Homo sapiens: one gene and its partners. The protein of the gene in region 7 purifies or fractionates together with the protein of the main gene of each other region. This does not show direct contact. Each region holds a gene or a part of one and is shown on either strand. Other genes may lie near its edges.

Region 1 (3,500 bases), on a different chromosome or scaffold from region 7:
TACTCCTGCCTCACTTGGCTCCAGCCTCACCAGACTCCCTCCTATGACTTCTATGTGCTAGCCCTTCCTGCTGGCCCGTGTTGTTCTCACTGCTCAGACTGCTATCACATCTGATAACTGCATGGTCTGCTTCCTGATCTCCTCCAGGTCAAGACTCAATTGCTGATTTCTCCATGAGGAGTTCCTGATTATACTCAGATACTCACTCACATACGCACAATCTTCACCCGTTACTTACCTGCCTCTCTGATTTGTCTCCAATATACGTATCATTATTGAACACACCACATCTTTTATTTATCTTGTTTATTATCTGTCTTCTCCTCTAGAATGGGAGCTTCAAAGGGAAGGAATTAAGATTTTATCTGTTTTGTTCATTGCTCTATCTCCAACTCTCACAACAGTGCCTACTATATAGAAAATGCTCAATAAATATTTGCTGATGCAATAAATAAAAAAATGTAACTAAGCAACCAAGCCCCAAAGAGTCTGATTTTATTAATATTGTTTTCTGTCTCCTCACAGGAAGCCCCTTGGCATCACGCACCTCCCTCTGGGCTATGGCATCTCTGAGCCAGCTGAGTGGCCACCTGAACTACACCTGTGGGGCAGAGAACTCCACAGGTGCCAGCCAGGCCCGCCCACATGCCTACTATGCCCTCTCCTACTGCGCGCTCATCCTGGCCATCGTCTTCGGCAATGGCCTGGTGTGCATGGCTGTGCTGAAGGAGCGGGCCCTGCAGACTACCACCAACTACTTAGTAGTGAGCCTGGCTGTGGCAGACTTGCTGGTGGCCACCTTGGTGATGCCCTGGGTGGTATACCTGGAGGTGAGTAGACTTCAGGTGCATGTTGTCTCTATGACTGTGCTAGTACTTGTCTTCCCTGAGTTCTGGCCTTTGGGGCTCAAAAGACTCCCCAGACAGTCAGGAACTGAGGAAGGAAGGAGAGCTCTCATTCTCCCTGTAATGAGAGAGTTAAAGCTCTGGAAAACAGTCACCATCCTGTCCCTCATCCACATCAGAACCAAGGAGCTGAGAATGATTCTGTTCATGGGTCTCCAGTGTTCAGGTGACTGGATTTGAGTGACGGGACTCTTCCTAATATGGCCTAGAGTTTATTCTCTGTGCCAGACATGTCTCAATGACATGGTGGGCTGGGTGAAGCAGTCCAGAAGACCTCTTCACCAGTGTTTAATGTATATGAGGGTGAGGGTGTGCAGGAGGGATGTGAGGCCAGGAGGAAAAAGGAATTATAGAAAAAAAAAATTAGTGAATGTAAGGGAAGATAGAAAGAATGACCAGCGAACAGATCAGACTTCTTTCGATGGCTCAGTCCCTCTTTGCTCTTTCCTCCTGGGTACCAGTTCTCCATAGACTCTGCTACCAAAGGAACAGACAAAACCCTCAAATGTATATTTTCCATGTGTCCATGAATAGTACAGAGCCTTTGCCAGAGAGATAGTGCAGCAGATCCTGGTGAATTCTTTTGGGGAGAAACATTTATTAAATTTGAAAGTATTTTCAATTGGGAGTGCAAAACAGAGCCAGGGGGTGGTCAAGACAAAACACCCATTTGCTAACAAAGAAATCAGGGTGACCATATCTGTTCAAGAAACAGATATTCTTACCAGGAAAACATGCAATTACTTAAGATATGTTTTTTTAAAAAAACCTGAGTATACTATTAATATTTCTCCTCTGCACTGTGTGTCATTTTAAAGAGGTATCCAATGAAGGATCAAAATGATGCTATGATTAAGAGAAATTAAGATTCATCAAATTAATATCTCAGTTAATATTGATAGTAAAAGTGACAGTTAATTAAGTATGACATATCACGGGAGAGCAAAAACCTTGTACATAGACTGCCTGTGCTAATACCTTTGTTAAAGATGGCTGGGAACTAAAATTAGACTTATGATCTCAAGGGGGAGACATAAAGAGAGAAAAAAAGAAAACAGAGAAATAAAAGGAAAAGAAGAAAAACAACTAGGCTGTGTAGATCTAAAGGCTAAGGGAATACTTGAGGAAAAAATATGCATTTATTCTTCCCAGTTAGGATAATCCTAGTTGGGAGGGTGAAGGGTCTTATAATTATCTTGATTTTTCTGTCAACCCAATTAGTCTGAGTCAACCTTGAAGTCAGAGACTAGATCTTTACTCTTCATCTCCTGTAGCCTAAACATACTACCTGGCACAAAATACATGCTAACTGCTATAACATTTGATATATGAATGATGAAATGAATCTTCTCTGTAATGTATGCATTATATGGGCTATTCCTGCTAATACCATCTGCCTCTCTATCTATTGTTACACTCAGACTTTTTGGGGAGAGGACTTTTGGGGACGAGCTATTTGTTATTTTACATCCAACAATAATGAGCCTGAAAAAATTTCGAAGCATGTGATATTTCTGTTCAAGAATGAGGCGCTTTAGGTGCAACCAGCCAATATGAATTGGTCAATAACTCATAGCACTGTCATCATCTTCCTAAAATGTTTTTGTCCATTTCTATGTGTTCCAAGGAATGTTAAGTCCTCCAGAAGGATGAATGGCAGGAAGAAATGTAGGCAGTGGACCTTCACTCTAATGAGCATTTTTATTCCCTCTAAGATAAAACCAGGCTTTTGGTGTCTGTAACAAAGCCACTCAGGGGCATTTGTTGGCTATGTATTTGTGATTATTTCTAGGACTCTGGTTGGACCATACTGGAAAACATCTGTATGTACTGGTTTAGGAGATAGACATTGTGACTTTTCCACACTAGAAATCCATGGCACCCCTTCTAGCCATACCTTCTGATATACTGGTGCTCCTATTCTACTACTGAGCATAGAAGGGCAGGTGAGACTATAGAAAATGACAGGAAATCTTGCCAAAGGCCTTAAAGAAATCACTGTAGTAGTACATATAGGTTTTCTTCCATGAGAACAGCTCTGATGAAGTTTTTGGTTTCTCCCCATAAAAACCATAATACTATGCCCTCTGTCCAACAGGTTATTTCATGTAGGTATTCAGTGATCAAGATCATAATTTTTACATTTGATCTTAACCAAAAGGCTGAGAAGCAATAAGAGCATGATTTTTAAAATCTATATTCACACAAGGAAGATTCAGGGGAGCAGAGACGTCTCCTCACTGGCTTTAGGACCTCTTTTTGGTCTTACCAATTTGCTTCAAGACCCAGTCAATGTCTTGAAGCGAGTTGGTAAGACCAAAAAGAGGCCCTAAAGCCAGTGAAGAATACAGAGGACCAAGTCTCTCCATCTTACATCAGTCTATACTTTTCTTAATCTCAAATGTTTTCCTATCTTTCCTTAGAGGCAAATGAGGCACCTTAATGAAAGAAAAGAGCACTTTGAGCCCTTAAAATATGGGCTATGAATACATAAATCCATGTTCCTCAAGAAGAAGCAAAGTATTATTCTCACTAACTTGTCCTAATGATAGTACAGTTTGAGTAGCTACTCTACTAATTACTTAATTATACCTA
Region 2 (4,199 bases), on a different chromosome or scaffold from region 7:
CTAATTTTTTTTTTTTTTTTTTGTATTTTTAGTAGAGACAGGGTTTCTCCTTGTTGTTCAGGCTGGTCTTGAACTCCTGACCTCAGGTGATCTGCCCACCTCGACCTCCCAAAGTGCTGGGATTACAGGCGTGAGCCACCGCGCCCACCTGTTGATTCATCCATTTTTAATATGTCTTTATAGCAGAAAGATTTTAAGAGAAGGGGCTATCTAGAAAATCTCTAGGTGGAAAGGTGCATGGAAGGGGCAGTGCAGAGTGGGGAAGATGGAGAAATTGAAATTCTTCAGCATCCCAGACTACATAGTGCCAAATCCAAATGCAAATCCAGAGCTAGCAATGAAAAAGACTCCTGGCCGGGCGCGATGGCTCACGCCTGTAATCCCAGCACTTTGGGAGGCCGAGGCGGGCGGATCACGAGGTCAGGAGATCGAGACCATCCTGGCCAACATGGTGAAACCCCGTCTCTACTAAAAATATAAAAATTAGTTGGGCATGCTGGCGGGTGCCTGCAGTCCCAGCTACTTGGGAGGCTGAGGCAGGAGAAGCGCTTGAACCCGGGAGGTGGAGATTGCAGTGAGCAGACATCACATCATTGCACTCCAGCCTCCAGCCTGGGTGACAGAGCGAGACGCCGTCTCAAAAAAAAAAAAAAAAAGAAAAGAAAAAGAAAAAGACTCCTGAGCCTCCTAGTGGTTCACGCCTGCAATTCCAACTACTCAGGAGGCTGGGACAGGAGGGTGGCTTGAGCCCGGGAGTTCAAAGCCAGCCTGGGAAAAATAGAGAGAGAGAGAGACTTGAAATATGGTAAATTTCCTCAGTACCTGAAAATATTAAAAAAAACAAAAAGCTAGAAGGAAAGAGAAGGTAACTGAAACAGAAGGGAAAGGGGACAGATCTCACCAAGCTGAGGTCTTGGGAGAGGAGATACTGGCTGAGCCCTATTACTTAATTTAAAATACCTTAGGGGAGGCCACCCAAGTGGATGCGGGGCTCCTGTGAATCCTTTGCTTGACTCCAGCGGGTTACCTTTGCCTCTGATACATAAAGGGTGGGGATGGGAGCGCTCTCCTCTCTCCTTCCCCTGCCTTGCTGTGGGAACTTCTGGGAAAGGAGGTGCAGGGCTCCAGGAAGCCAGTGCCCAGGGAGTGCTATGCTGAGTCCAGGAGCCTGGCCACGGCAGGGGTGGACAGATGGTGGCAGAGGAACCACGGTGTCCCTTCCTCCAGATTTAGCTAAAGGAAACGTGGAGCATCCCATTGGCCATCCTCCCCACTCTCCAATTCGGCTCCAGAGGCCCCTCCAGACTATAGGCAGCTGCCCCTTTAAGCGTCGCTACTCCTCCCCCAAGAGCGGTGGCACCGAGGGAGTTGGGGTGGGGGGAGGCTGAGCGCTCTGGCTGGGACAGCTAGAGAAGATGGCCCAGGCTGGGGAAGTCGCTCTCATGCCTTGCTGTCCCCTCCCCTGAGCCAGGTGATTTGGGAGACCCCCTCCTTCCTTCTTTCCCTACCGCCCCACGCGCGACCCGGGGATGGCTCCGTGGCCTCACGAGAACAGCTCTCTTGCCCCATGGCCGGACCTCCCCACCCTGGCGCCCAATACCGCCAACACCAGTGGGCTGCCAGGGGTTCCGTGGGAGGCGGCCCTAGCCGGGGCCCTGCTGGCGCTGGCGGTGCTGGCCACCGTGGGAGGCAACCTGCTGGTCATCGTGGCCATCGCCTGGACTCCGAGACTCCAGACCATGACCAACGTGTTCGTGACTTCGCTGGCCGCAGCCGACCTGGTGATGGGACTCCTGGTGGTGCCGCCGGCGGCCACCTTGGCGCTGACTGGCCACTGGCCGTTGGGCGCCACTGGCTGCGAGCTGTGGACCTCGGTGGACGTGCTGTGTGTGACCGCCAGCATCGAAACCCTGTGCGCCCTGGCCGTGGACCGCTACCTGGCTGTGACCAACCCGCTGCGTTACGGCGCACTGGTCACCAAGCGCTGCGCCCGGACAGCTGTGGTCCTGGTGTGGGTCGTGTCGGCCGCGGTGTCGTTTGCGCCCATCATGAGCCAGTGGTGGCGCGTAGGGGCCGACGCCGAGGCGCAGCGCTGCCACTCCAACCCGCGCTGCTGTGCCTTCGCCTCCAACATGCCCTACGTGCTGCTGTCCTCCTCCGTCTCCTTCTACCTTCCTCTTCTCGTGATGCTCTTCGTCTACGCGCGGGTTTTCGTGGTGGCTACGCGCCAGCTGCGCTTGCTGCGCGGGGAGCTGGGCCGCTTTCCGCCCGAGGAGTCTCCGCCGGCGCCGTCGCGCTCTCTGGCCCCGGCCCCGGTGGGGACGTGCGCTCCGCCCGAAGGGGTGCCCGCCTGCGGCCGGCGGCCCGCGCGCCTCCTGCCTCTCCGGGAACACCGGGCCCTGTGCACCTTGGGTCTCATCATGGGCACCTTCACTCTCTGCTGGTTGCCCTTCTTTCTGGCCAACGTGCTGCGCGCCCTGGGGGGCCCCTCTCTAGTCCCGGGCCCGGCTTTCCTTGCCCTGAACTGGCTAGGTTATGCCAATTCTGCCTTCAACCCGCTCATCTACTGCCGCAGCCCGGACTTTCGCAGCGCCTTCCGCCGTCTTCTGTGCCGCTGCGGCCGTCGCCTGCCTCCGGAGCCCTGCGCCGCCGCCCGCCCGGCCCTCTTCCCCTCGGGCGTTCCTGCGGCCCGGAGCAGCCCAGCGCAGCCCAGGCTTTGCCAACGGCTCGACGGGTAGGTAACCGGGGCAGAGGGACCGGCGGCTCAGGGTCGGGAAGCATGCGATGTGTCCGTGGGTCAACTTTTTGAGTGTGGAGTTTATTAAGAGAAGGTGGGATGGCTTTGCTTGGAGAGAAAAGGGAACGAGGAGTAGCGAACCAAAATGGGACCCAGGGTCCTTTTCTTTCCGGATCCAGTCACTAGGGTAGAAGCAAAGGAGGGCGAGCGGGCCGTCGTTCCTCACCCAAGGACCCAAGGTGCGCCACCGGAAAGCGCTGCGGTGTCCCGAGGACTCTCGCCTCGCCTGGTCGGCTTTAGGGATTTTTTTTTTTTTTAAATAGAGACAGGGTTTCGTCTCTGTCGCCCACGCGGGAATGCAGTGGCGCGATCTCAGCTCACTGCAGTCTTGAACTCCTGGCTCCTGGGCTCAAGCGATCCTCCCACCTCAGCCTCCTGAGTATCTGGGACTACAGGCGAGCCCCACCAATCCCAGCTATTTTTAAAATTTCTTGTAGAGATGGGGTCTTGCTATGTTGCCCAGGCTTGTCTTGAACTTCTGGCCTCAAGTGATCCTTCTGCCTCAGCCTTCCAAAGCATTAGGATTACAGGCCGGAGCCAGGGCGCCGGGTCGGCTCTAGTTTTGGTTTTCCAGCTCAGTTCTTTGCCCCCCTCCCCCGATTTCTTGCCATCACTAGACCTGGCTCGGACTTGAAGGCAGGGCTAGTGCCCCCCCACCCGCCCCCCAAGCCCTCGGCCTCAGTTCTGGGTTTTCTCAAAGGTTTGACAGCTGTGGAGGTGAGAATCCACTTCCGGTATGAAGTACAGTTGTGAGTGAGGAGCCTGTGAGTGCAGATGTGTGCCCTCCCGCTCCCTGGGCTGGGTTGGAGTAGGGATGGGGTGGGGCGTGTGTGGCTGGGTGGTGCCCTGGCGTTTTTGTGTAACTAAATATGCGTTCCAGGGTCTCTGATCTCTGTCATTCCCCTCAGTGCACCTGTTGCTCCTTTCACCCCAGGGTCTATTATCTCCACTTTTTTTCCCAGGGCTTCTTGGGGAGTTTCTTAGGCCTGAAGGACAAGAAGCAACAACTCTGTTGATCAGAACCTGTGGAAAACCTCTGGCCTCTGTTCAGAATGAGTCCCATGGGATTCCCCGGCTGTGACACTCTACCCTCCAGAACCTGACGACTGGGCCATGTGACCCAAGGAGGGATCCTTACCAAGTGGGTTTTCACCATCCTCTTGCTCTCTGTCTGAGAGATGTTTTCTAAACCCCAGCCTTGAACTTCACTCCTCCCTCAGTGGTAGTGTCCAGGTGCCGTGGAGCAGCAGGCTGGCTTTGGTAGGGGCACCCATCACCCGGCTTGCCTGTGCAGTCAGTGAGTGCTTAGGGCAAAGAGAGCTCCCCTGGTTCCATTCCTTCTGCCACCCAAACCCTGATGAGACCTTAGTGTTCTCCAGGCTCTGTGGCCCAGGCTGAGAGC
Region 3 (3,500 bases), on a different chromosome or scaffold from region 7:
ACACCACAGGTCCCAAAGGCCAGTAACCAATCACAGTGTAGAGGGTGTACAAGTTCATGGAGAAAACACCTATGATAAGGTCAGCACAGGCCAAGCTGAATAAAAAGTAATTGTTGACGGTCTGGAGGTGGCGGTTGACTTTAATGGAAACCATGACTAGGATGTTCCCGATAATGGTCACCAAACTGAGGGATCCAGCCACCAGGACAATAAACACCACTTCAAATGTCTTATAAGGACTTGTAAGAGCCAGGCTATTGTTAGAGGAGTTTGTTGAGTTATTCATTTTGCGTTCTCTAATCAGTAGCCAAGTAGCAAATAAACATTTAAACCTGCAAGGAAATAGAATAAAATTAACAAACATAATATAAACATTGGTTTAAAATACATAATGTTGTTTCTCCTTTTAAACCACATTATTTTCTCCCAAATCTCCCTTCCCCTGCATGATTACTGTGTCTACCTGCCTCAATTCCCCATGTAAAAAGCAAGACCTTCAAATGGAGGATTCAAAAGGACCTTTCAGGCTGGCAATGAACTTGAAGTCCAGTAATGTTTTAAATATGTCCTTATCCAGATATGAGTATCTATCTACCTACCTATCTACCTATATATCTCATCAATCCATGAAACTTAGCATAATACTGATAAATTGAATTAAATAAACCAAAATTACAAACAACACTTTCTAAAACATCAAGGGATTCCTGGAATAGACATAAAAATTAGTAAATTAGTGAGAGGACACAATTATAGAAGAAAGCATAGAATGTATAATATTGAATGTGTGACTTTTATAGTTAACAGTGCCTTTCCTCATGGAAGCTCTAAGCCTTTTTCACAATAACACTGAGGATGGTGAAAATAAAGATAATATAATAATACTTAATAGCCAGTATACTCTCCCTAGATGAGAATTATTTTCCTCTTGCCTCTATTTTATTTCATACTTGTAATCAGTATTACATAATCAGCATTTCCAATATTCCATATCTTACACAAGAATATTTGCTTATTAAATGCATATTGAACTGAAAAAGCCAAAATTATGCATAAGACTTTCCAAAGCATAAAGAGATTTCTGGAATAGACATACAAATTAATACATCAATAAGAAGACAAAATTATGGGAGAAAATACCACTTTTCTGAATGTTTTGTTTTTCAAACCACTATCAAATCTATTATCTTACTATTCTTTCTGCCAAACTTTTTGTTTTGTAGAAGGAACTAAGGCTCAGAAAGATGAAATCCCAGTTTGTTCAGTCATTCATTCTTTCACTTTGTGCTCACATATCTATTGAGCAGCTTCTCTTAATTAGGTGTTCTGGACGTTCAATGATGATTAAAACAAGGTCTCTGCCTGGTGGCAGACATGGGTTGATGAAGAAGCAATTATTAAACCTGAATGCACTTCTTGTTTCCCTATCCTGTTGTGTGTAAGTAAACACATAATCATCATTTTTGAGATAATATCATTGAAGTCTGATGACAATTGAGTGATCTTTCATAATGGAAAATGTATATTGGGGATTTAGAAAAGAAAGTTAAGAATTCATCAAAGAGATATGACACATTTCTGGAGAAACAGCATCTGAAGCAGAAACTAGCCCAAGTTCCACCTCTTTTTGAAAAAATTGCTGTGAGCTGTCAGAAAATAAGCATTGCTGAGAAATTAAAATTTGGGAATATTGATTAGTTTGGATGCTATTAATTACAAAGAAATGGGCAGTGGTTTGCCCTTGAAATCCATGTAGAAAATAATTTGGTAAGCAACTTCATAACACAAATAACATTTAAAAAAATAATTTTTTCTGCTTTGGAAAGTCAATTGTTTTCCAGTATTTTATTTGACAAAACCCAAATAATGGGATTTGGCCTTAATATAATAAGACCCAAAATTCAGAAGCCAGAAAGGAAAATATATGTAACTGTTGCATATTCCTTTAAAATTTTTGCATAGAGCAAAAAAGTCAAAATAACAATTGAGAAACAATATTTGTAAATTGCACGATAGAAAATTATCCAATGTCTTTAATATAATAGAGTTTTGGCAAAAAAGGAAAGATGAAAGATGAATAATCTAAAACATTGATGTAGTAGTTCAATCAAAGAAAAATTAGACATTAATGACTTTTAAACATATGAAATGATACTCAACCCCACAGTTTAAAGATGCAAATCCAGACAGTGAAAAACAATTTTCCATCCGTAGTATTAATGGTAGTGTTGAATACTTTTGGTGGGACTAGCGGGATAATCACCACGAAGGATAATGTATCTATATCTATAGAACTTTAAATCTGTATCTATAAAAATGTATTAAGAAACACTTGTCTCAGGAATGCCACATTTAGGAATGTGTCTTTCAGATAGAGTCATAAAAATGTACAAAGAGGTCTACTCAAGTATGTTCACTCAGAAATGTTGTTATAGCAAAAAAATCCCGAGATATATTAAAACTATTCATTGACAAGGGATTGGTTAAATATATTATGGAATACTCTTACAATGGAATATTATGCGGCTAGTAAAACAGGTAGATATTTGTGTCCTGGCATTGCTGTGGAAAGTTATATAGTTAGAAGATGACATAATCATAGTGAGACATAGATTATTACAGAATATAATTTTATTTAAGCAAAAAGGTGATTATATGTAATATTACATATGTATGCCTGCAGCTCATTGGGAAATATTGAAGAGTTTAATCAGGGAAATGATGTTAATGGAATGCAACTTAGATCAGTTGAATTATTTTAATCGGATTTCCCTTTGACAATCCTTTTTTGCAATTAATCATACAATTGTATATTCATGGTAATTTATTTGAACAAAAACATTTTATTATCCCAGTTCTTATTCCAACAATTTCTTAATAGCTCAGCTAACTGTAAGATCAGAATTGTGACTTGCTTATAAGCAGCATTTTCTCTGTTTATTAGATAAATTCATGGACAGTTTGGAGTTGAGCTATATGTGTATCTGTTTCATGAAATGTTAATATTAATTCACTTAGTTTGAAAAATACAAAAAATGAATGTATTGACTCTGCATTTTAATTATTCATAATTTTGATAAAGCATAGGACTTATATTCTAGTTTTTAAAAGATTTTTGATAATTTCCTCTGGAGAATAATGAATAACACTGATGTTGAAAAGTAGGGATTCAAAATCAACTAGTTTGATGAGGATCTAAATTGCTAAGGTCCAAAATCCCCAAAATTACAATCCTGAAAGATTAAAATTCTGAATGTTGAAATCCTGAAAGCTGAATTCTGGAAAAGGGGTTGGCATTTCACTTGCATGCAGGATGGTCTCATCACATTGGCCTGCATCATGTTAGGTGGAACCATCACCTTGTTACTGCTTTTATTTGGAAATAACATATAGTTTGAGGAGATGTATATGAACACTAGGCTGACAAGTGGTGGACTTGTGAACTTAATTTTAGGTGTCAACTTGGCAGAATTAAGGAATACCTAGAAACCTGATAAAAT
Region 4 (2,819 bases), on a different chromosome or scaffold from region 7:
TCTGGGGCTGATGCTGAGTCTGGTCCCAAGGGTGCAGGGGCCAAGGACAGGACCCCCAGGGAGCTCACAGCTGGTAGGGGGTGGTAAACAGGCAGCCTAGCAGAGAGTGAGGGTTCAGGTTGGTCCCAGGGAGCTTCTGAGGCTCTCACTGAGTGTGGCAGGGCACCAGTCCGGGACCCCAGTGGGGAGGGTTAGAGGAAGGGAGGGGAAAGAGGGAGGGAGGGAGGACAGGAGGGGAAAGGAGGAGCATTGCTGCTGAGGGAAGGGCCCACATAGGGGCCCACAGGCTACGGGGGCGCACCCAGCCCAATATTCCTTCCGCCCCGCCCCTGACCAGCCTGCCCTTCTGCAGGTCTCATACCGGGCCCAGCAGGGTGACACGCGGCGGGCAGTGCGGAAGATGCTGCTGGTGTGGGTGCTGGCCTTCCTGCTGTACGGACCAGCCATCCTGAGCTGGGAGTACCTGTCCGGGGGCAGCTCCATCCCCGAGGGCCACTGCTATGCCGAGTTCTTCTACAACTGGTACTTCCTCATCACGGCTTCCACCCTGGAGTTCTTTACGCCCTTCCTCAGCGTCACCTTCTTTAACCTCAGCATCTACCTGAACATCCAGAGGCGCACCCGCCTCCGGCTGGATGGGGCTCGAGAGGCAGCCGGCCCCGAGCCCCCTCCCGAGGCCCAGCCCTCACCACCCCCACCGCCTGGCTGCTGGGGCTGCTGGCAGAAGGGGCACGGGGAGGCCATGCCGCTGCACAGGTATGGGGTGGGTGAGGCGGCCGTAGGCGCTGAGGCCGGGGAGGCGACCCTCGGGGGTGGCGGTGGGGGCGGCTCCGTGGCTTCACCCACCTCCAGCTCCGGCAGCTCCTCGAGGGGCACTGAGAGGCCGCGCTCACTCAAGAGGGGCTCCAAGCCGTCGGCGTCCTCGGCCTCGCTGGAGAAGCGCATGAAGATGGTGTCCCAGAGCTTCACCCAGCGCTTTCGGCTGTCTCGGGACAGGAAAGTGGCCAAGTCGCTGGCCGTCATCGTGAGCATCTTTGGGCTCTGCTGGGCCCCATACACGCTGCTGATGATCATCCGGGCCGCCTGCCATGGCCACTGCGTCCCTGACTACTGGTACGAAACCTCCTTCTGGCTCCTGTGGGCCAACTCGGCTGTCAACCCTGTCCTCTACCCTCTGTGCCACCACAGCTTCCGCCGGGCCTTCACCAAGCTGCTCTGCCCCCAGAAGCTCAAAATCCAGCCCCACAGCTCCCTGGAGCACTGCTGGAAGTGAGTGGCCCACCAGAGCCTCCCTCAGCCACGCCTCTCTCAGCCCAGGTCTCCTGGGCATCTGGCCCTGCTGCCCCCTACCCGGCTCGTTCCCCCAGGGGTGAGCCCCGCCGTGTCTGTGGCCCTCTCTTAATGCCACGGCAGCCACCCTGCCATGGAGGCGCCTTCCTGGGTTGGCCAGAGGGCCCCTCACTGGCTGGACTGGAGGCTGGGTGGCCGGCCCTGCCCCCCACATTCTGGCTCCACCGGGAGGGACAGTCTGGAGGTCCCAGACATGCTGCCCACCCCCTGCTGGTGCCCACCCTTCGCAGTTACTGGTTGGTGTTCTTCCCAAAGCAAGCACCTGGGTGTGCTCCAGGCTTCCTGCCCTAGCAGTTTGCCTCTGCACGTGCACACACCTGCACACCCCTGCACACACCTGCACACCGTCCCTCTCCCCGGACAAGCCCAGGACACTGCCTTTGCTGCCTTCTGTCTCTTGCATAAGCCTCAGGCCTGGCCCTTTCACCCCTCTTCCCACCAACTCTCTCTGCCCCCAAAAGTGTCAAGGGGCCCTAGGAACCTCGAAGCTGTTCTCTGCTTTTCCATTCTGGGTGTTTTCAGAAAGATGAAGAAGAAAACATGTCTGTGAACTTGATGTTCCTGGGATGTTTAATCAAGAGAGACAAAATTGCTGAGGAGCTCAGGGCTGGATTGGCAGGTGTGGGCTCCCACGCCCTCCTCCCTCCGCTAAGGCTTCCGGCTGAGCTGTGCCAGCTGCTTCTGCCCACCCCGCCTCTGGGCTCACACCAGCCCTGGTGGCCAAGCCTGCCCCGGCCACTCTGTTTGCTCACCCAGGACCTCTGGGGGTTGTTGGGAGGAGGGGGCCCGGCTGGGCCCGAGGGTCCCAAGGCGTGCAGGGGCGGTCCAGAGGAGGTGCCCGGGCAGGGGCCGCTTCGCCATGTGCTGTGCACCCGTGCCACGCGCTCTGCATGCTCCTCTGCCTGTGCCCGCTGCGCTGCCCTGCAAACCGTGAGGTCACAATAAAGTGTATTTTTTTATTGGTGCTGATTCCTGAGGACTTTGTGGGGTGCTCAGAGCCTTCGTGCTTTGAGGAGAGACTCCAGGGAGTCCAGAAACCACTGAGAAGCAGGCGTGAGGATGAGGGCTCTGTGTTTTCTTCTAAGTCGGGGGACTGCAGTGGGGATGAAAGACCAGCCTGCCACACCAGGGTTTAATCCCAAGAAGGGTTTCATGTGCCCTACCGCCAGACCCCTGCACTTCTCAAGACCTGGCTGGCGGGTGAGGAGATGCAGCCCACGCCCTGCACAGGAGGGGCCCGCTCTGGCCCTGAGAACACAGACATGCAGCCTTCCTGCCCCCAGGACAGGTGCCTCATCTTTCTTGGTCAGGAGCAGGGTTGCACCCCAGCAAAACTTGGGACCCAGGGAGGATCATGGCCATGCCCAGCGTGTGCAGGGTCTGGGTGGCAAAGGGACTGCAGTGACCAGAGGGGAGGGATTGGGCTAGCTGGCTGGAGCTAGGCTGGAGGGGCTGCTAGAAGGGATGAG
Region 5 (3,500 bases), on a different chromosome or scaffold from region 7:
GCTTCACTTTTCCCAGGGTGGACTTTGGTGGACTTTGGTGGACTTTGTCCAGACTCTGACTGCCACAGCCATGTTTCTACCTCCACTCAGTCACTCATTTATTCCCATTTTTATTTCTCTGTGGTGATCTGACAGGTTAAAGATTTCATAAATTCCGAGCTCCTAGCACAGTTGTATTCTTCAGAGGACCAAAATACCCTGATGGAGGAATCTGCTGAGCAGGCTCAGCGCCGGGATGAGATGCTTCGAATGTATCAAGCACTGAAAGAAGCCCTTGGGATAATTGGGGACATCAGCACAGCCACCGTGTCCACTCCGGCACCCCCTCCAGTGGATGACTCCTGGATACAGCACTCTCGCAGGTAAGAAGATGGCCCCGGCCGGGTGCGGTGGCTCGCTCCTGTAATCCCAGCACTTTGAGAGGCCGAGGCGGGCGGATCACGAGGTCAGGAGATCGAGACCATCCTGGCGAACATAGTGAAACCCTGTCTCTACTAAAAACATAAAAAAAATTAGCCGGGCGTGGTGGCGGGTGCCTGTAGTCCCAGCTACTCGGGAGGCTGAGGCAGGAGAATGGTGTGAACCCGGGAGGCAGAGCTTGCAGTGAGCCGAGATCGTGCACTGCACTCCAGCCTGGGTGACAGAGCAAGACTCCGTCTCAAAAAAAAAAAAGAAGATGGACCCACCCACAACCCCTGAGCCCTGCCACGCTTGTCCAATATCATTTTCTGAGAGTGCTTTCCTAAACCAAGATGGACCTACAGAAAAAGGGGAAAAGATATTTACATTCAGGAGTAAGGATCAGATTATACTAACTCCCTTAAAAATGCAGCACAGTGCATCCTCACAATGGAATGTTATATAGTCACTAAAAAGAACAAGACAGTTCTATTAAGTCCTAAAATGAAAAGATAATCCAGTTAACGGGAAGCTTTAAAAAAAAGGGAGGTTGTATGCCAGGCGCGGTGGCTCACGCCTGTATTCCCAGCACTTTGGGAGGCCGAGGCAAGCGGATCACCTAAGGTCAGGAGTTTGAGACCAGGCTGGCCAACATAGTGAAACCCTGTCCCTACTAAAAATACAAAAATTAGCTGGGGGTGGTGGCGCACACCTGTGATCCCAGCTACTCGGGAGGCTGAGGCAGGAGAATCGCTTGAATTCAGGAGTCAGAGGTTGCAGTGAGCCGAGATCACGCCACTGCACTCCAGCCTGGGTGACAGAGCGAGACTCCGCCTCAAAGAAAAAAAAAAGGAGGTTGTAGAAGACTGTGTTCTATGGTATACAGAAAAGCAATTTATATATAGAGAGAGAAAATATATACTTATACAAATGTAGAATACAGTTAAAAAGGATGCACAAGAAACTTCTATAGTTGTTTCAACAGAGTGAAGGGGTAGGGAGAGGAAAACTTACTTTTCTCCATTTACCCTTTTATCCCTTTGACTTTCATGACATGAATTGGACTTATTCAGTCAAAAAATAATTTTTAAAAAGCAGGAAGTTACAAAACATTTTTAGAGATTAATTCAGACAGAAAGGAGGAGTGAGCAAACTATGATTTCTCTTTTTCCTCAGGTCACCTCCTCCAAGCCCCACAACCCAAAGGAGGCCAACACTAAGTGCTCCCCTCGCAAGGCCCACATCCGGCCGAGGACCAGCTCCTGCCATTCCCTCTCCTGGCCCCCACTCTGGGGCTCCTCCAGTCCCATTCCGTCCAGGCCCATTACCTCCTTTCCCCAGCAGCAGTGACTCCTTCGGAGCCCCTCCACAAGTTCCATCTAGGCCTACGAGGGCCCCGCCCAGTGTCCCAAGGTAAGGCATGGAGCAGAAATTGGGGGGGTAGTGCGCCTTGGTTCTCTTCTCATAGAATGACAGACAAAATTTATTTGAAAGAGAAAATTGCAAAGATCTTATCGTACGTGTTTGCAGTTTTCACAATGAACAGAGACTATAGGAAAATTGCCAACCCTGTTATGCCATTTAAAAATCACTTGTGATCATTGAAATTTCTCATTTATCAATTGGCACAGACTAAATAGGACTAAAGAACACTCCGTCCCAATGAATGACATTTTGGCAGCTATTGGGAGAATTTGAGGGCTTTGAAACAAAAGAGCTATGGAGGATTGTAGCAAGCTGTGTGTTCTATAGGTCATGAGAGTTCCATGGACTAAAGTCTTGCCTTCTCCATTATCAAAAGAATTCTTGAAAACCACTGACTTAGAGAATTTTATCCATCTGCCTTCTGAACTGTGATCCTTATACTCAATTTTACCAATTTTCATATAGGCTGAATAAATCTGGCTGATTGATCTGCAATTGTTTTTTTAAAAACTACACATAGAAATTTTAATATAGGCATGATTGTTGTATACAGTCACTAATCATATATAAGATAGATCATTGTACATCTGAATAATACGTGTTGACAATTATAAGTGGATTTTCAGGCTTAATTGTGAAACAATATAGCTAATAAATAATGGACCTAGAAACACACATAGTTGGAGCTGTAGTCTCACCTTCATATACTTACAGTCAAAATATACACAATGAATAGAATCAGAGATTTTTAAGGTATAAAGTACTAAGGTTTTTTTCCCCCTCAAAATCAGAAATATAAAGAGGAAAGAAAATTAGCCCATATATAAAGTTAATTTTTAAAAAATTCAATTCAGAGAATTAAAATATTTATATACTCCATGAAGGAATATCTGACTGTATATGAACCATAAAAACAGATGTGACTTCTACCCATCCCTGAAGCCTGAGCCACCTTGCCAACTGATTATGGCACTTACGTTTTATTTTAATCTTCAAGTTGTTAAGCGTAATGAAGAGAAGAGAAGAAGGGGGATCTTAAGCTAGTACACAGAGGGTGGTACAGCAAGAATAGGCAGGAGATTTGCAGTCAGAAGACCTGGGTTACTGAAGGTCTTGGGCAACTCATTTAACTCTGAGACGGGAGTTCTTTATCTATGAAACAGGGAGAACTCAATAAGGTTGTTCCCCAGATCATATGACATGAGGTATTTGAAAGAGTTTGATACACTGTAAAGACTACAGTTGTTACCACTGTTATCATTTTGGTCCTAAGCAAAGAGGATATATACACACTCTCAATCCAATTTTTTTTCTCTAAATTCAATAGACTTGGCTTATAAATTATTTGGAATGGTGCTAAATTTCTAGTAATAGCAGTACTAGCAATAGCCAACATTTATTGTGCCCTCAATATTACTAGGCATTGCCCTAAGAACTTTGTATATACATTTTTGTTTAAAGCTCACAACAAATAGGTTGTTATCCACATTTTACAGATGAGGCAGTGAGGTTAAACAGCTTGCCCAAGGCTGCTCAGCCAGTCCCTAGTGGAGCTGGACTTTAATCCCATGCAGTCTGCTTCCAAAGCCATTTCCTGACCATGACCCCAGGGTTTTTCAGCCTCATCAGTACTGACGTTTTTGTTGTGGAGGGCTGTCCTGTGTATTGTAAGATGT
Region 6 (3,500 bases), on a different chromosome or scaffold from region 7:
AGAGAGAAAAAGTAAGGTCAGAGACTTGGGTGATGAGTGGCCACTTAGTAGCATGATGTTCATCAGACTGGAGTTGTATGCTGTTGGGGGTGATCAACACTGCTGGTTACCTACTCAATAGCCATGTACCCTTTTCCTTATTCATGCATTCATTTGCTCACTTAACAACTATTTATTGAATTTCTGTCACTCTTCTAGGTGTTGAGAATATAGCTGTGAACAAAATAGACAAAAATGTTTGCCCCTATGGAATGTGCATTCTAGTGAGAGAGTTGGGCAGAAGCAAGACAAATGTGTTTGTAGAAATCTAATTCCGCACATGTTCTGGGAAGGTGGGCTGCATCCTCATGTGTCTAAGCAGAATATAGCAATCCAGTTCCTCTTTACAGTGGCAGATAGAGGAGTGACCATGAGATACCACCATGGCCAAGGAATAGGATGAGGATGTCAAACAGCAGAGGCGGAGTTTTTAGGAACGTTCTTCCTCTCTGACAAATGATCAAAACAACAAAAATTGTTGTTGCTCACTTGCCTCTTTCTCCCTGACAGGATGTGAGGAAGTGATGTTTGAGGCCATGAGAGTCATCTTGGGACCATCGGGAAGGCCAAGAAAATGCCAGCCTAGGGCCTTGCTGTCACTAAGCTGCTGAGCCAACTCTGGAATCTTCTTCTCCCAGACTTATTATTATGGGAAATAATTAAATGGGCTTTGTTTTGCTTGGCTTTGCTTTTTTTTTTTTTTTTTTTTTTGGCTTACATCACTGTTGTGGCAGTTCTTACTTGCAGCTGAGACCATCCCTAAATGATATGGAGGAGGTTATAAGGGGACACACCAGAGGCACATAAAGCATGAAATAAATCTAGCATATCTTTTTAGAGGAAAATTCTCAAGTGAGAAGGGGATTATGTTATTGGAAAAGCATATTCGTTATTTTACTTTTCTATTTGAAAAACAAACAATTTTTTTAAATTACATAAATCATGCCAAGTAATATGTAACAAGACCCTTGCTAGTAGGCTGGAAATGGTGGCTCACACCCATAATCCCAGCATTTTGGGAGTCTGAGGTGGGAGGATTGCTTGAGGGCAAGAGTTAAAGGTGGAATGATCACTTGAGGCCAAGACTTGCAGCCTGGGCAACACAGTGGAATCCTGTCTTTACAATGAAATTTTTTAAAAATTGTCCTATAATACACCTATAGTCCTAGCTACTCAGGAGGCTGCAGTCAGCTATGATCACATCACTGCACTCCAGCTTGGGTGACAGGGCAAGATCCTGTATCTGAAAAATAAAAATGAAAACCCTTTGCTACTAAGGCTCTACTGAAAACGGACTGTATCCTCTGTTATTGGTGATACTCAAGTCGGGTGGTTGGGTGAAAGTAAGTATTAAATCTTCTGGAAGGAGTTTTTAAGATTTTTTTTTTTTTTTTGAGATGGAGTCTCACTCTGTCACCCAGACTGGAGTGCAATGGCACCATCTTGGCTCACTACAATCTCCAGCTCCCAAATTCAAGTGATTCTCCTGCCTCAGCCTCCTGAGTAGCTGGGATTACAGGAGTGTGCCACCACACCCGGCTATTTTTTTTGTATTTTTTTAGTAGAGACGGGGTTTCACCATGTTGGTCAGGCTGGACTTGAACTCCTGACCTCAGGTGATCCACCCACGCTGGACTCCCAAAGTGCTGGGATTACAGGCATGAGGCACCACGCCCAGCCATTTTTTTTTTTTTTTTTTTTAGGACAGAGTCTCACTCTGTCGCCCAGGCTGGAGTGCAGTGGCACCATCTCAGCTCACTGCAACCTCTGCTTTCTGGGTTCAAGTGATTCTCATGCCTTAGCCTCCCGAGTAGCTACAATTACAGGCACCCACCACCACGCCCAGCTAATTTTTGTATTTTTAGTAGAGAAGGGGTTTCACCATGTTGGTCAGGCTGATCTTGAACTCCTGACCTCAGATGATCCGCCCACCTTGGCCTCCCAAAGTGCTGAGATTACAGGTGTGAGCCACTGCGCCCGGCCAAGTTTTTAGATTTTCATATTCATCAAAAAGTGGTGAGTTTAAAGAAAACTGATAAACACTAATAAATAGTAAATTTCTCTCAATAATTTAGCAAAAAGAAATTATTTTTACATTAAGACAAAGCCAGATAAGTTCTTGAGTAGAAGGCTAAATTTATTTATTTATTTATTTAGAGACGGAGTCTCGCTCTGTCGCCAGACTGGAGTGCAATGGCGCGATCTCGGTTCACTGCAACCTCTGCCTCCCAGGTTCAAGTAATTCTCCTGCCTCAGCCTCCTGAGTAGCTGGGATTACATGCGCCCACCACCACGCCCAGCTAATTTTTGTATTTTTAGTAGAGATGGGGTTTCACCATATCAGCCAGGATCCTTTTGATCTCCTGACCTCATGATCCACCCACCTCAGCCTCCCAAAGTGCTGGGATTATAGGTGTGAGCCACCGTGCCTGGCCTGTAGAAGGCTAAATTTATATAACTTTTTAAGATAAAAATCAAAACCCCAAGGTGTTTGATCCTTGTGGAAGGAACCTTTTAAATGTCTTTGTTGGAAAAACACCATTTTGGGCAGCACTGATTTTGCCCAAGCTCTACCATTTATTTTCTCAGTGATCTCTTGGCCTCCATCTTCTCATGTGTCAAATGGGTAGGGTGGGATAGACAATCTCTAAAGACTTTTCCAGGTCTCTTTCTTACAGCGGTATTTTTTGATGTCCTCCAGCTCTGAGGTGCCAATCAGAGCAATCCTCTGATTGCTGATGGGGCCTCCTCTGACTTCTTCAAAAGCATCACTGTCTCCTTGGGTGACCCAAAGTCCTGCCCTATGCTCCTGTCACTCTGTGCTGTCGGCCTCGGGGATCTCATCCTCTCACTTACCTACCCCTCAGCCATCACCTCCTATGAGGACAACACTCAAACCCACAGCTCCAGCCTGTATTTTTCTCCATTCCCACATCTAATACCTTGCAGCTTCACCTTCTGCCCTGATCAAGTCCAAACCCTGTGGAATTGTCCACAGTCACTTCTGGAAGGAAGAAAGTAGGCTGTGAAAGGAAAATAACTTGGGGCCCCAAAATCACTTAAGGTAAAGGGAAAAGTCAAGTTGGGAACTGCTTAGGGCAAACCCGCCTCCCATTCTGTTCGAAGTCAGACCTCTGCTCACTGAGATAAATGCATATCTGATTGCCTCTTTTGGAGAGGCTAATCAGAAACTCAAAAGAATGCAACCATCTGTCTCTTATCTTCCTAAGACCTGGAAGCCTCCTCCCGGCTTCCAGTTGTCCTGCCTTTCCCAGACCTAAGGAATGTTCATCTTGCATATATTGATTGATGTCTCATGTCTCCCTAGAATGTATAAAACCAAACTGTGCTCTGACCACTTTGGGCACATCGTCAGGACCTCCTGTTGCTGTGTCATGGGTGTGCGTCCTCAACCTTGGCAAAATAAACTTTCCAAATTAACTGAGACCTATCTCAGATTT
Region 7 (3,500 bases):
ACGTGGGGTGGAGGTGACAGCTCTGAGAGCAGGATCAGCTAAGCAGGTGGGAAACAGGTGGGAGCAGAGAGAGCAAGGACTGTGGGCAAGTGCCTTTACTAGTGATCTCAGTGCAGTTCACAGCTCAGTGCAGTTCACAGTGCGTTGCATTGGTGCATTGGTAGGTCGTGGTCAGAAGAAGACAGAGAGGTGAACTTGTGGTAGGGGCCAACCTTATCAAACTTGTGCACCTGGTTACCTGGGTGGGGTGTTCACAGTTAGCGTATGTGGGAATGAATGTTGAGGCAGCAAGAGGCAGCAGGAGACAACATGTGAAGTTTTGAAACTTTGTAGTACAACCCTTCTCAGTGTTTTTGGTTTAGAATTTATTGTTTCCATAATCACTTAAGGAGCCTAAAAGCTTAAGAATGATGTACATGGTATCCGATGGATAATAAAGACTAAAGAGAGCTATAACTATACTTATTAAAATGCCATGATTGTGAGACCCTGCCAAGTCTTTTGCATTCTACCAACAAAATATTTTCATGCTATACTAAATCATTAGCTGATGACAAATGCTTCAGGAAATAATTTCACTATTTATAAAGGTTTTACATTTAGTACAACTTCTAAATGCCAAATATGATGTTGTAGTTGCTCTACCCTAATCTCCCTCCGCCATCCCCTGGGTCAAATTGTATATAGTAGTAATGAATATGGAGAAGCTGTCTGTAATACTCGTGAAGAACCCACAGCTCCATGGAGGTTTACTTGGATACTTAGGACACTGAAGGACCTCTAGGCAGTGTTTTCTGCCTTTTTTTGAATTATGATATATATAAAAAATAGAAATATCTTTTTTATAATTCAAACTAACCTTTCCCCATAGATACTAATGGAAGCAGTTTTATAATGCTGAGAAACATCTCAATATCAAGCTATGTATTAGTCTGTTCTCATGTTGCTAATAAAGGCATACCCGAGACTGGGTAATTTATAAAGGAAAGAGGTGTAATTGACTCACAGTTCTGCATGGCTAGGGAGGGCTCAGGAAACTTACAGTCATGGCAGAAGGGGGATCAAAAATGTCCTTCACATGACGGCAGCAAGGAGAAGTACAGAGCAAAGTGGGGTAAAAGCCCCTTATAAAACCGTCAGCTCTCGTGAGAATTCACTCACTATCACGAGAACAGTGTGGCGGTAACCACCCCTATGATTCAATTACCTCCCACCAGGTCCCTCCCATGACACATGGGGATTGTGGGAACTACAGTTTAAGATGAGATTTGGGTGGGGACACAGCCAAACCGTATCACAGAATAATGCTTGAAAGAAACATAAAGCAGATAGCCTATGCTTTTAAACGTACAGGAAATCGGCTGGGTGCGGTGGCTCATGCCTGCAATCCCAGCACTTTGGGAGGTCGAGGCAGGCAGATCACTTGAGGAGTTTGAGACCAGCTTGGCCAACATGGCAAAACCTCGTCTCTACTAAAAATGGGAAAATTAGCCAGGCTTGGTGATGCACAGCTGTATTTCTGGCTACTCAGGAGGCTGAGGCAGGAGAATTGCTTGCACCTGGGAGGCGGAGGCTACAGTGAGCCAAGATCACACCGTTGCACTCCAGCCTGGGCGACAGAGCGAGACTGTCTCAAAAACAAAACAAAACAAAACAAAAAGTACAGGAAATAATGTCCACAGTGAATGACTCCAGTGAGGAAAGGAGAGAAGGGGAGTCAGGACAGTTATTGTCCATAACAGTGATGGCATCCTGCAGGGGGCATTGTGAAATCCCCTGCCTGCCAGTAGAGGAAGTTCCTTGGTTTTACAATCTGGCTCTGCAATCTGGGAAGAACTCTTGTTCTTTCTTATATATATTTGGCCAGGTCTAAGGAGGGTTAGAGGAAATCTGCCCTCTTTGGGAACGGCATAACTTTTCAGTCAACTTCCTGTTTATTTAAATTTGGGGATTGTTTTACAGTCATAGGGTTTTCACTATCCATGGTAGATTTGAGTAATGAAATTTCTTCATAAACTTAGTAGGCTTCTGGCCAAGTGCGGTAGCTCATGCCTGTAATCCCCGCACTTTGGGAGGCCGAGGTGGGCGGGTCACCTGAGGCCAGGGGTTCAAGACCAGCCTGGACAACATGGTGAAGCCGCTTCTCTACTAAAACTACAAAAATTAGCCAGGCATGGTGGCCTACGCCTGTAGTCCCAGCTACTCGGGAGGCTGAAGCTTGAACCTGGGAGAGTTGCTTGAACCTGGGAGGCAGAGGTTGCAGTGAGCCAGATTGCACCACTGCACTCCAGCCTGAGCAGTAGAGCAAGTCACTGTCTCAAAAAAACAAAAACCAAAAAAAAAAAACCAGAAAAACTTCAACTTAATAGGCTTCTGATGTGTTTTCTTGTGAGTTTCATTTGCCAATTTCTATGATGGAAATTCTTTTTTAGACCTAATTTTCATCCAGTAGACTTGGTTGTGTTACTCTGAACTTAACAAGAGGGCCTGATACTTTGGCTTAACCAAGAAGTCTTAATGGTACTTTGTTGCTCAAAGTCTTTTTCATTTATATTTCCCGTTATTTGCTTCAGGGACTCAGGATGACCCTGGATCGGTTCTGCCATCTGTAACATATGGTTTTCAAGGTTGCCAAAGGGAAAGAATATGTTTGAACAAGCATGGGAGATGTTCATAAGCCAGGCCTGGAAGAGGAATATGGTAGACAGAATGCTACGATTGTTGGTGACTCTTGCTCTTGTGTACTCTCCTCCCCTTTGAGTGTGGGTGCAATGTTCAATTTGAAAAGATGTTATTCCTGAGACTTTTAACTTTGTAAGACAAAAGGGAGATTATATGATTGGACTTAATCTAATCTCATGAGCCCTTTAAAAGCAGGATATTTTCTCTGGCTGGTAGTGGAAGGAAAAATCAGAGAGATTGGAAGTATGAGCAGGACTGGACATGCTGTTGTTGGTTTAAAGAGGGAGGGGCCATGTGAGTAGTAATGCAGGCAGCCTCTAGGAGCAGAAATCAGCTCTTTGGTGACCATCAGCAGGGAAAATAGGGATCTTAGACCCACAGCCTTGAAGAATCTGAGAGGAAGGGAATTCTTCCCCCAAGCTTCCAGATAAGAGCCCAGTCTAGCCAACGCCTTCATTTTGGCCTTGTGAGGCCCTCAACAGGGAGCTCACTTAAGCAGGCCCAGACTTCTAATTTATAGAATTGTAAGATAATAAATGGGTATTGTTTTAAGCTGCTAAATTTGTGGTAATTTGTTATACAACAGCTGAAAATGAAGAGAAGGAATAGTTCCTTCTGTTTATGTTTGGTTGGCTGGAACTTGTAACATGGCCCCTCTGTGGTACACCTAAGAGAAATGGAAGAAGGCAAGTGTAGCCTAGCTATGTGCCCAGGATGTAAAAGTGGGTTTTTGGTTAAAAAGCTAGCAGTTTTGCTATTACTGGTGCCTATAATTAATTAATTGTGTGTCTGTATATTAATCTATTTGTGAGCTTGTA

Evidence for each region.
Region 1: the proteins of SH3GL2 (region 7) and DRD3 purify together in Homo sapiens (pull-down; one study listed by IntAct). This does not show direct contact.
Region 2: the proteins of SH3GL2 (region 7) and ADRB3 purify together in Homo sapiens (pull-down; one study listed by IntAct). This does not show direct contact.
Region 3: the proteins of SH3GL2 (region 7) and CHRM2 purify together in Homo sapiens (pull-down; one study listed by IntAct). This does not show direct contact.
Region 4: the proteins of SH3GL2 (region 7) and HRH3 purify together in Homo sapiens (pull-down; one study listed by IntAct). This does not show direct contact.
Region 5: the proteins of SH3GL2 (region 7) and DNM3 purify together in Homo sapiens (affinity purification with western blotting, with the first as the bait; one study listed by BioGRID). This does not show direct contact.
Region 6: the proteins of SH3GL2 (region 7) and HRH1 purify together in Homo sapiens (pull-down; one study listed by IntAct). This does not show direct contact.

What each region holds. Positions count from the first base shown.
Region 1 is NC_000003.12:114,169,053-114,172,552, reverse strand, and holds part of DRD3 (D(3) dopamine receptor), read left to right. Parts: intron 1-525; 5' UTR 526-560; coding exon 561-830; intron 831-3,500. UniProt on the Homo sapiens protein: Dopamine receptor whose activity is mediated by G proteins which inhibit adenylyl cyclase. Promotes cell proliferation.
Region 2 is NC_000008.11:37,963,800-37,967,998, reverse strand, and holds the start of ADRB3 (beta-3 adrenergic receptor), read left to right. Parts: upstream 1-1,399; 5' UTR 1,400-1,529; coding exon 1,530-2,734; intron 2,735-3,759; coding exon 3,760-3,781; 3' UTR 3,782-4,199. UniProt on the Homo sapiens protein: Beta-adrenergic receptors mediate the catecholamine-induced activation of adenylate cyclase through the action of G proteins. Beta-3 is involved in the regulation of lipolysis and thermogenesis.
Region 3 is NC_000007.14:137,011,652-137,015,151, reverse strand, and holds part of CHRM2 (muscarinic acetylcholine receptor M2), read right to left. Parts: intron 333-3,500; 5' UTR 287-332; coding exon 1-286. UniProt on the Homo sapiens protein: The muscarinic acetylcholine receptor mediates various cellular responses, including inhibition of adenylate cyclase, breakdown of phosphoinositides and modulation of potassium channels through the action of G proteins.
Region 4 is NC_000020.11:62,214,460-62,217,278, reverse strand, and holds the end of HRH3 (histamine H3 receptor), read left to right. Parts: intron 1-352; coding exon 353-1,273; 3' UTR 1,274-1,872; coding exon of another isoform or gene 1,873-1,900; 3' UTR 1,901-2,319; downstream 2,320-2,819. UniProt on the Homo sapiens protein: The H3 subclass of histamine receptors could mediate the histamine signals in CNS and peripheral nervous system. Signals through the inhibition of adenylate cyclase and displays high constitutive activity (spontaneous activity in the absence of agonist).
Region 5 is NC_000001.11:172,386,998-172,390,497, forward strand, and holds part of DNM3 (dynamin-3), read left to right. Parts: intron 1-135; coding exon 136-362; intron 363-1,575; coding exon 1,576-1,812; intron 1,813-3,500. UniProt on the Homo sapiens protein: Microtubule-associated force-producing protein involved in producing microtubule bundles and able to bind and hydrolyze GTP. Most probably involved in vesicular trafficking processes, in particular endocytosis.
Region 6 is NC_000003.12:11,255,493-11,258,992, reverse strand, and holds part of HRH1 (histamine H1 receptor), read right to left. Parts: intron 1-3,500. UniProt on the Homo sapiens protein: G-protein-coupled receptor for histamine, a biogenic amine that functions as an immune modulator and a neurotransmitter.
Region 7 is NC_000009.12:17,585,566-17,589,065, forward strand, and holds part of SH3GL2 (endophilin-A1), read left to right. Parts: intron 1-3,500. UniProt on the Homo sapiens protein: Implicated in synaptic vesicle endocytosis. May recruit other proteins to membranes with high curvature. Required for BDNF-dependent dendrite outgrowth.